Homo sapiens: one gene and its partners. The protein of the gene in region 2 purifies or fractionates together with the protein of the main gene of each other region. This does not show direct contact. Each region holds a gene or a part of one and is shown on either strand. Other genes may lie near its edges.

What was found.
Region 1: the proteins of MMRN1 (region 2) and ACP3 purify together in Homo sapiens (affinity purification with mass spectrometry; 3 studies listed by BioGRID and IntAct, with this or other methods). This does not show direct contact.
Region 3: the proteins of MMRN1 (region 2) and AZGP1 purify together in Homo sapiens (affinity purification with mass spectrometry; one large-scale study listed by BioGRID and IntAct). This does not show direct contact.

The regions. Positions count from the first base shown.
Region 1 is NC_000003.12:132,323,842-132,327,497, reverse strand, and holds part of ACP3 (prostatic acid phosphatase isoform PAP precursor), read right to left. Parts: intron 1-3,656. UniProt on the Homo sapiens protein: A non-specific tyrosine phosphatase that dephosphorylates a diverse number of substrates under acidic conditions (pH 4-6) including alkyl, aryl, and acyl orthophosphate monoesters and phosphorylated proteins.
Region 2 is NC_000004.12:89,936,312-89,939,967, forward strand, and holds part of MMRN1 (multimerin-1 isoform 1 precursor), read left to right. Parts: coding exon 1-487; intron 488-3,656. UniProt on the Homo sapiens protein: Carrier protein for platelet (but not plasma) factor V/Va. Plays a role in the storage and stabilization of factor V in platelets. Upon release following platelet activation, may limit platelet and plasma factor Va-dependent thrombin generation.
Region 3 is NC_000007.14:99,966,159-99,969,715, forward strand, and holds the end of AZGP1 (zinc-alpha-2-glycoprotein precursor), read right to left. Parts: intron 2,273-3,557; coding exon 1,997-2,272; intron 1,129-1,996; coding exon 845-1,128; 3' UTR 572-844; downstream 1-571. UniProt on the Homo sapiens protein: Stimulates lipid degradation in adipocytes and causes the extensive fat losses associated with some advanced cancers. May bind polyunsaturated fatty acids.

The DNA of each region.
Region 1 (3,656 bases), on a different chromosome or scaffold from region 2:
CTGTCATCTAGGCTGGAGTGCAATGGCACCATCTTGGCTCGCTGTAGCCTCTGCCTCCCAGGTTCAAGTGATTCTCATGCCTCAGCCTCCCGAGAAGCTGGGATTACAGGCACACGCCACCACACCCAGCTAATCTTTGTATTTTTAGTAGAGATGGGGTTTCACCATGTTGGCCAGGCTGGTCTTGAACTCCTGACCTAGTGATCCACCTGCCTTGGCCTCCCAAAGTGCTGGGATTACAGGCATGAGCCACCACACCTGGCAACATTTTATATACAATAAAAATAATAGATTTTTAACACCACATACAATTTGTGACCATTTTGAGCCAATGATTTGTTCATTTTTTGGAGATTAGGAGTAAAAGATTGCAGGTGGGGAGGTTAGGAAAGCTAATTCTCAATACTTTAATAACATACTTCTATATTTGTACCCATGTCATGCTATTGTGATTGCACATTTCTCTTTGGGAAGAGTAGTCTGGACTTTTGAAATCTTGGTGCTTTGATTCTAATATGCTTTCTCAGTATAATATCAAACCAAACACAAAGCCATCTTATGAGCAAAAGATAAGGAAAGAAAACACTGAAGAACTACAAGATGAAGTCTACACTGATGTCAGCAAATATTTTTAATATAGAGACAGCTGCATAACACCTTGATTTATCTGAGGTTACCCGCACCTGTACTTATACTACCTGGCTAAAATGTTCCATTGAAAAGTAAGCTAAGAACCTGCTCTTTTGAAATTCTGTAAAACAGAATTCAATAGACATTAAATAAGAAAACAGTCTCAGACTTTAGTCATTTTTGAGAAGGAATTCCAAGAAAGTGGGAGATGCTTGGTTTGTGTCTCTAATATCTGAAGAAAACAGATCTTTTGGCCCTTTAAACTAGTGACAAATTAAAACTTCGGTAGAGTAGTCTACAGAAACAGGGGCAATGATGCAATAAATGTTAAGCGATCATTTTGGTCAGGTGAGAAATTACTTTCATGAATGATCCCCTGAAGGCAGGAAGGACAGCTGCATATTTTTTTGTGAGCACCTGCAGTTACTAGTCTCAGGGGTGACTTGGTCATGATCAGAAATGATTATGGTTAATCATTGATGCCTCTTTCCACAATTGAAGTACATTTTAGAGTTTTTATATCCCAGGTAAATGTGTCTTTGAATAACTAAAGTTGTTACATGGTTTCAATAAATTACAAACCCCACACTGTTTTAGTTTCTAGGGCTTCTCAACCTCAGCATTGTTGACATTTTGGGCTAGATAATTCTTTGTTGTGGGGGTTGTCCTGTGCATTGTAGAATGTCTAGCAGCATCCCTAGCCTTTACCCACCGGATGCCAGTAACATTCCCCAGCTGTGACAACTGAAAAAGGCACATTTTCTGCCATAGGGGCAGAAAATCACCCCAAGTTGAGAGCCACTGAGTTAGCCAAAGAGAAGTCAGGTGAGAGACATTGTAATAAAATAATTTACATTGCTTCCCACCAACCTATAACCACAACGGTAACTCCTTAACATTTTTTGAACACTCACTTTGTCCTGGAAACTGTGCTAAGTGCTTCTCATAGATGTAATCTTCTCATCAGTTCCACAAAGCAGTTACTATTATTATTTCCATTTCACAAATGAGGAAGTTTAGCTTAATTAAGTGACCTGTCTAAACTCACACAGCATGTAAGAAGTGGTAGAGCTGATATTCAAACACAGGCTGTGCCTCCAACTCCAGCATACTTAACCACCTGTGAGAGGTTCATTTCTGTATGATCACACTCCTCACAGTCCCACCAGCTAAATCTGAATGGTCTGGGATCTAACGCTTCTTTATTAACTCTACTTAGTATACTCTTTTCCTCTAGGATTGGAAGGGGTGTGTGTGTGTGTGTGTGTGTGTTTTGTATCAGAAGAAACCAAAACCTTGATACGGAAACTACCCCGAAGGCACTGTGAACTATGTATATTATTGAAAGAATAGAACTGAGGTTATGCAACTAAATGACAGAATGGCCTGAGAGAGAAAAACAAGTGTGGTCACCTTAGCAGAGTGTTTTGAAGAGCAGAGAACTGGAACATAATCATGAGACTTGGGCAAACTTTCTCACTCTGGCCCATAGTTCAGAAATAATTGTACTCCCCTACATTTCAGTAGGTTTTAAGTGTTTCCAAGGTAGTTGCTCAAACATGCTGTCAACCCTTTGGAAGGGATGTCCTGGAGAAACACTTAATAAACCATTCTCCACTTCCAGGGCTGGAAATCAAAATGTGTGCACACACCCCTCCCGCAGGCAAATGTGAAGCTGGTGTTCCTTGAGCTTTTGGAGTTTCAAAATTCAGCTGGAGTTCTTGGACTATGCGAAGACATTCTTTTAATTCTGTGGTAGAGCAATCTTCTTAACTGCTGCTCTACCAATTATTACCTCTGTGCTCAGTCCAGCAATCATACTCTATGAAATCCTTTAAAAACCTAAAAATACTTTATTAGCAATTAGGATTTTTGCAGTAGTAGTGGTAATTGTAATAGAAAGACATCCAAGATAATAACAATTCCTGGCCAGGCACAGTGGCTCATGCCTATAATCCCAGCACTTTGGGAGGCTGAGGCAGGCGGATCATGAGGTCAGGAGATCAAGACTATCCTGGCCAACATGGTGAAACCCCATCTCTACTAAAAATACAAAAATTAGCTGGGTGTGGTGGCGCATGCCTGTAGTCCCAGCTACTCGGGAGACTGAGGCAGGAGAATCACTTGAACCTGGGAGGCAGAGGTTGCAGTAAGCCGAGATCGTGCCACTGCACTTCAGCCTGGTGACAGAGTGAGACTCCGTCTCAAAATAAATAAATAAAAATAAAAAAAAATAATAATTCCTTACATTTGCACAACCCTCCATGGTTTGTAGAATTTTCCCCTGCTACCTCTTTTAATTATTACATCCCCGTCTGAGGACAGGTTGGCACTACTGCTGCACTGAGCAAGTAAGAAAACTATATGATCAAAGAGATCATGTAGCTGTCCAGATCTCCTAATTCTCATGATAGTTGGCCCACTGTTTCCCCATCATACTACAATCACTTCACACTTTTAAATCATAGGTAACTGTTTTTAAAAGGACTTTTGGTTTGGTGCCCCCATGAATGAACCTGCTCCACTGAATCTGCTAAACAAATCTGGCATGTGGCTTAGGGTGTGGAGAACCTGGTGAGTACAGTCGAGGCTATATCCAGTGGAAAATGTAAAGATATACAAAAGTGGAGTTTTTTTTTTTTTTTTTTTGAGATGGAGTCCTGCTCTTGTTGCCCAGGCTGGAGTGCAATGGCATGATCTTGGCTCACTGCAACCTCTGCCTCCCAGGTTCAAGTGATTTTCCTGCCTCACCCTCCCAAGTAGCTGGGATTACAAGCACCTGCCACCACGCCTGGCTAATTTTTGTATTTTTAGTAGAGACGGGGTTTCGCCATGTTGGCCAGGCTGGTCTCGAACTCCCGACCTCAGGTGATCCACTCGCCTTGGCCTCCCAAAGTGTTGGGATTACAGGCGTGAGCCACTGTGCCCAGCCTAAAAGTGGAGATTTTTATCATGAGCCCACCACTGTCTCCAACAATTATCAACTTGTATGTGGCTAGTCTTGTTTCTTTTATATCCTCATCACT
Region 2 (3,656 bases):
ATTTCAGTTAAAAAAGGCAGTGTAGTTACAAATGAGAGAGATCAGGCTCTTCAACTGCAAGTATTAAATTCCAGATTTAAGGCGTTGGAAGCAAAATCTATCCATCTTTCAATTAACTTCTTTTCGCTTAACAAAACTCTCCACGAAGTTTTAACAATGTGTCACAATGCTTCTACAAGTGTGTCAGAACTGAATGCTACCATCCCTAAGTGGATAAAACATTCCCTGCCAGATATTCAACTTCTTCAGAAAGGTCTAACAGAATTTGTGGAACCAATAATTCAAATAAAAACTCAAGCTGCCCTATCTAATTTAACTTGTTGTATAGATCGATCGTTGCCTGGTAGTCTGGCAAATGTTGTCAAGTCTCAGAAGCAAGTAAAATCATTGCCAAAGAAAATTAACGCACTTAAGAAACCAACGGTAAATCTTACCACAGTCCTGATAGGCCGGACTCAAAGAAACACGGACAACATAATATATCCTGGTAAGCTGTTACTGAAAAGTAACTTTTAATCTCTCTTTTTACTTAAATGATATTTAATAGATCTGTACAGTTGAGCAAGACCATTAAACATAAAACTACATACTTGAACTTGGATAGATAGTCAAGTTGTGAAGATCACTGACATTATTTAAATCTGAATCTATCTTACAGTATTTCAGACATCAATACAAAACAAATATTTCTAGTGTATATTTGGCTATGTGTTTTTAAAATTTTTCTGACTAGACCTCTATAAAATAATTAAATTTGCTCCTATGGAACAATTTGCTTTGCACAAGTAATTAAACAAAGCTATTAGGCAAGGAGATCTTTAATAGACCAGATTTACTTATTTTGGCATTTTACCATATCTGATATGCAATAGGAACTCAGTAAATACCTGTTGAATGATCATCTGACAATGAATGTTCAGGAAATAGATTTGGGTAAATCATAGAAGGCCATCAATGCCAAGCTAAGTACTTAGACATGATTTTGTAAAGAGTAGGGTGTCTGAAAATTGGTATCAGTGGATTGGTTGTGATAAGAGCTGCAACTCAGAAGCATGAAGCTAGCAATAGTGTGTAGTGTGATTGCAGAGGTGATATTAGGGATGTTACTGAATGAATATTGGCAAGAGCCATAGAGGAAGCTCTAAGGCTGATGTGAGAAATGTTGGAAAGTTCCCATCAACAGAAACAGAGGGAGAGTGGCAAGAAAAATGATTTGAGGAACATCAAATCTTGATTCTGGTCCTAGATGTATTAGTAAGTTTCTGTGTTAGTTAATAGCACTAGGTAAAAAGTTCACCTCTCTAGGCCTTAGTTTCTTCCTTTTAAGTGATGAGATTGCAGTAGGTGATTTGCTGAGGTGCTTAGTAGAGATATGCCGAAGACTGCTTCACTGTAAAAAAATCCACGATCTGTTCACAGCCTTAATGCATGACACTTGGAGAAGAGAGAGATCTAGACTTTCCCGATGTTTTGAATTTGGGAAATGACAGAATAGTGGTACCATTAACAGATGTTCTAAACACCAAGGAAGAAGCATGTATTTGGGAAGAAAGAGGAATTGTGTGGTGCATATAAATTGCATAATAGTACCTCTGTATGAAGGAAGTGTTTTATGAATATGGTTGTCATATAAGTAATATTGAATAATCTTTTCTAAATATGAATATCTCTTCATTCTTACAAAAAGTAATGGCTGTGTTTTTCTCATATGAGTCTGCTGTTAAATTATAGCCCATTTGTATGAATTTTGTACTTTATTTCTTTTTAATTACAAAGGATGATCATTATTCTAACATAATATGACTTCATATTTAATGTATGAATGTTTTGATAATATTAAAAATAACAGAATAATAGAGTTGAATTATCTCTACTATTTAAATTAGTATATTTATTTATGACTCCCCCAGAGTAATCTGACCTAATAGAACTAATTTTACTTCTGTAGGAACATAGAAGAAACTATTTAGACGTATATGTTTCCCAGAGAAAGGTAGTATCTCAATATAAGATGTTCTTAAAATAACAATTTTGGGAGATATAAGGAGTTGTTTTTTCCATACTATTTCCATTATTGGTCTTCATGTGGACACTTCATCATGATCTTCAATTAGCTATACAGCATGTGTGACCACACACCAGGCAAGCTATGTCATTTTTTAAACATATATATATATATATATATATATATATATATATATTTAAAATATATATATGCTATTTTCATAGTAAGTATAAAATTGAAATAGCCTCAAATAAATTGAGGAAAAACATTTATAGAACATTAAGAACTTGCAAACTTTGATAATATAATGAATGCATGTTAGGACATTATAAAAATTGTATCTAGATACTTATTGTGATTGACTCAATATTGGGCTTAATAGACTAATAATAGGAAATAACTCAGTTTTGATTCTTATTTTCCAATAAGGCTTTGATAACATTGCTTCCTGTTCCTTTATTTACTGACTGTAGAACTTTTTATGTTCCTGTCTACCAAAAATAACTATTAAAGTTCTTTATTTTATTTAAGCAAAGATACCAATAATGATGCCAAGGTAATAAAGATATACTGACCTAATTCCCACGTGCAAGGTAGATATTCCTTTTATGCCAGGCCGGGCCAGCAACATAATGTATGGGACCCTTTTAAGTGGTTGCATAGGTTTGCATGCCCATTAAGCCAGCCATACTTCCATGGGCCATAGAACAGATGTCAATCATTGGGCAGCTCAGCAGGCAAGGTCTATGAAAGATGATGAAACCAGTGGACTCAGGCTAAGTTCTCCTGTAAGAATAGAACAATTGCAGAATAAACTACTACTTTTGATACCCTGTTTTATACCAGGGGTGGGACACACTGTTTAAATTTGGCTGTTTCATTTCACCTTTGATATTGTATAAGTATTATACAGCCACATTGCTCTCCCACATAACTAAAGCCAGAAGATAATTTATCATCATCTTATGAATCTCAGAGTCATATTATTCAGATTCTAGCTGCCATCATTTGCAAAATAAGTACAGTATATAGAAAAAAGCATATAAATATAGTGTTTTAATCTTAATTTTAATAACTGATAACTTACTTTGAAGCCTGATAATATGAATACCGTAATAATACGACATTGGTTAGTATTCATTAACATTTACTATATCTCAGGCACTGTGAAAATTCCCAATATTCATAACTTCATTTAACAATACCTGTGAGGTAAGTATTATTATTTATTCTGAAGATGAGTAAACTGACCCTCGGAGACATTAACTAAAGTATCCTGCCTAAGGTCATTCAACTAGTAAGTGATAGAGCTTGGCTTCTGGCCAGCTAGACTCAGGGCTCAGTCCTCAACCACATGCTCAAAGAAATTATAGAGTGTGTTCACATGCCTTTCTCTTCTTTCTGTTTCTGTTTCATGCATCATATGTTCTTCAGTCTGGCCATATCTGAATATTCCATATGGCTGGAGCCGATATTTTTAGGGAGTTTCTTTTCTTGAAGATCCAAATACTGACAAGTTGTTTCTGCACATGAGGAAGTAGAGGTGCTACTTTTCAGTTTGGCTTTTTTGGGATATGGCCAGTGGGTACTTATTGAAAGTCACCATCAGATAGTCACAAGATCTTCCTTTGACTGACGAAGAAGAGGGACA
Region 3 (3,557 bases), on a different chromosome or scaffold from region 2:
ACGGGGGGAGGATGTAGACCCCTGCAATATTGGGAGTAATATCCTCTCCACCCCTGGATATTAGGAACAATATCAAAGGGGGGGTGTACAACCCCTGCAATATTTGGGTAATATCATCCTTGTCCCCCCTGAATATTAGGAACAATATCACAGAGAGTTTAAACACCCCTTGTATATTGGGAGAGATATTCTCCCCTCCCCAACTGGGTATTAGGAACAATATCAAGGGGGGGTGTACACCTTCTGTGATATTGGGAGTAATATCATCTTTCTTCACTCTGGACATTATGAACAATATCACAGGGGGGTGTACACTGGCAAGTAATATCATCCTCTCCCTTCATGGGTATTAGGTACAATACCACAAGGCGTCTAGGGACACCTGAACAATCCCCAAGGGAAAGGGGGTTCAGGCCACACTTGGGATTGCCCAGGTCAAGGTGCCCAGGAACCATGGCCTCCAGGGGAAACCAAGAGTTTCAGATGAATTCAGTGCTTGAGGGCAGAACCAATGAGAAAATCTAGTCACATTTCTACAGCGCATCACCGTTAAAAAAAGGATTCTCTGTTATGCTAGGCAAGGAGGGATGATTATTTATTAGCTTCTACAGATTAGACAATGGGGTGGGGGTGGGCTCAAGGTGAGATGATTTTTTGGGTCCAAGTCTACTCAAGACAGGCATCCCAGTCTTCGGTCTCCAAATCCACCTCCTGTCTGTCCCCCCACACTGCTCCTCAGGCCTTGTGGATCCATTGACTGTGATTTCTGTGGTTCAGCTCCCACATCAGGCAGGAAGGGCAGCTACTGGGTCTGAGATCCCACATTGCCTCCAACCCTTGCTTCCTAGCTGGCCTCCCAGGGCACCACGAGGGGCTGGGCCAGGCTGCTGTGCTGCACGTGGCAGGAGTAGGGGGCTGTGTCCTGCGGGGGCACTGCCACCACCACCCAGGACTGGTAAGTGCCATTTCCATTGTGAAGAACATCTCCCCGTAACTCAGGCTCCTGCACCTCGCCGGCCCGAGTCCAGTGCACATCAATTTTCCCTGGGTAGAAGTCGTAGGCCAGGCACTTCAGTTTCTTCTTTTCTCCTGGGGCCTGGTGGCTGGTGACCACCACAGAGGGAGGATCTGTGGAGGGATAGAGTGTGACACTGCAGGCTTGAGGTGGACTTCTCCCGGCCCAGGTCTCTTCCTACCCCCACCCCTGGATGTCAGCGATCAGCAGAGCTCGAAGCTCTGTACCTGCCCACCCCCAGCCCCGGGAGACTTTCCAGAATATCAGGGAAGGCTGACGCTTTCCCTCTTGCCCAATCCCCACCTCACCCATGTATTGACTCTGACGGCAATAAGTTGTGAATGCTCCGTGTGCTTCTCCATGTTTTCCCACATCTCAGTGGGCTTTGGAGTTCTGTCCCCCAGTCTCAGTCCAGCTGCTTGGTTCAGCCCATGCCTCTATCCAGCAACCACTTCCCTGCAGCACTGCACAATCCTGAGTCTCACTACGTCTCCAATCCAAGTCTCAGCTTGCAGCCATCAATTCCGCTCACACTGGCTTGCTCTTGTCCTTCTGGGGCTGACATTTTACACGCCTCCCTTCTCTCCACCACCCAGATGGGAGGCATCATTGTAGAGATAAAAAACGATGGGATTTGGAATCTGAAATCTGGAATTTGAGTCCCAGCTCTGCCTCTTACAGACAGTGTTACCCTCACCTCCCTAACCTCAAGCTCCTTGTCTGTTAATTGGAGATGATTTGGGGACACTCATCAAGAAAGAATGGCCTTCCTGGCCCATTCTGCCTGAAATTTTGATGATGTTCTTTTTGGACCACAAATTATATTATCCCAGGGAAGGAATAAATCCTAAAAGATGAAAGCTGGGGGTCTGAGGGACATCCAGGAACAGATGAGACCGGACTAAGATGTTGCCTGAGCTCCTAGCCTGAGATCGTCTTTTATTCTGGGCTCAGTACTGGGGAGCAGGAAGCAGTGAGTACCTTGCCGGTCCAGGATATTTTTGCTGTATTTCAGGTATTTCCGCAGAGTCGCAGGGCACTCCTCCTCCAGGTAAGCCTTGGCCCGCTGCACGTAGACTGGTTCTGCCTCCCACTTCTGCTTGGTTATCTGGGCTGCTGGGTCGAAGGGGACCCAGGCTGGGATTTCTTTGTTGAATTCAATGTAGTCCTTTCCATCATAGTAATATTTCCAGAATGCTCCGCTGCTTCTGTTATTCTCGATCTCACAACCAAACCTTCCCTGCAATACGTGAGACCCTGAAAACTCCCCCGACCCCACAGAGAGACAGTCAGCCTGGTGAGAAATTTATCAAAATAACTCTTAGTCTTGCACATTGGGCAACCCAAAAGAAATAAAGGTTTTTGCAATTCAAGCATGCAATCCCTTTATCAAGACAAATAGGTTATTACTCCAATATATACAACAGACAGAGAGGGGCTAACTCAGTTTGGTTTGGCATTTCAGGTTTGTCTCAGATGAGATATGTTCCTCCTTAAGAGAGCTACAGCCTGGGCGCTGTGGCTCATGCCTGTAATCCCAGCACTTTGAGAAGCTGAAGCGAGTGGATCGCTTGAGCCCAGGGGTTCCAGACCAGCCAGGGTGATATGGCGAAATCCCACCACTACAAAAAATATAAAAATTAGCGCAGCATGGTGGTGCATGCCTGTAGCCCCAGCTACTCAGGAGGCTGAGGTGGGAGGATCACTTCAGCCTGGGAAGTCAAGGCTGCAATGAGCCAAAATCACACTACTGCATTTCAGCCTGGGTGACAGAGTGAGACCCTATCTCAAAAAAAAAAAAAAAAAAAAAAAAAAAAGCACCAGGCCCAGTGGCTCACACTTGTAATCCCAGCACTTTGAGAGGCTGAGGAGGATGGATCACCTTAGGTCATGAGTTCGAGACCAGCCTGGCCAATATGGTGAAACCCCATCTCTACCAAAAATATAAAATTAGGCTGGACGCAGTGGCTCATGCCTGTAATCCCAGCAGTTAGGGAGGCTGAGGCCAAAGGATCACCTGAGGTCAGGAGTTTGAGACCAGCCTGGCCAACATGGTAAGACCTCATCTCTACTAAAAATACAAAAATTTGCTGGGTGTGCTGGCACATGCCTGTAATCCCAGCTACTCATGAGGCTGAGGCAGGAGAATCGCTTGAACCTGGGGGACAGAAGTTGTAGTGAGCCGAGATGGAGCCATTGTACATCAGCCTGAAAGACAGAGCAAGACTCAGTCTTAAAAAAAAAAAAAAAATTAACCAGGAGTAGTGACACATGCCTGTAGCCTGTAGTCCCAGTTATCGGGAGGCTGAGGCAGGAGAATCCCTTGAACCCAGGAGGCAAAGTTTGCAGTGAGCTGAGATTGCATCACTGCACTCCAGCTTGGGTGACAAGAGCAAAACTCCATCTCAAAAAAAAAAAAGCTACAGAATATGAATATATTTCTATCTCTTCTATAGCATCTCTTCTAAGGACAATTATTTGTTTGAATTTATGCTGAGTCCTGAGGAAGCTGTCACAACTACACCAAAGTGTACTTCCAAAT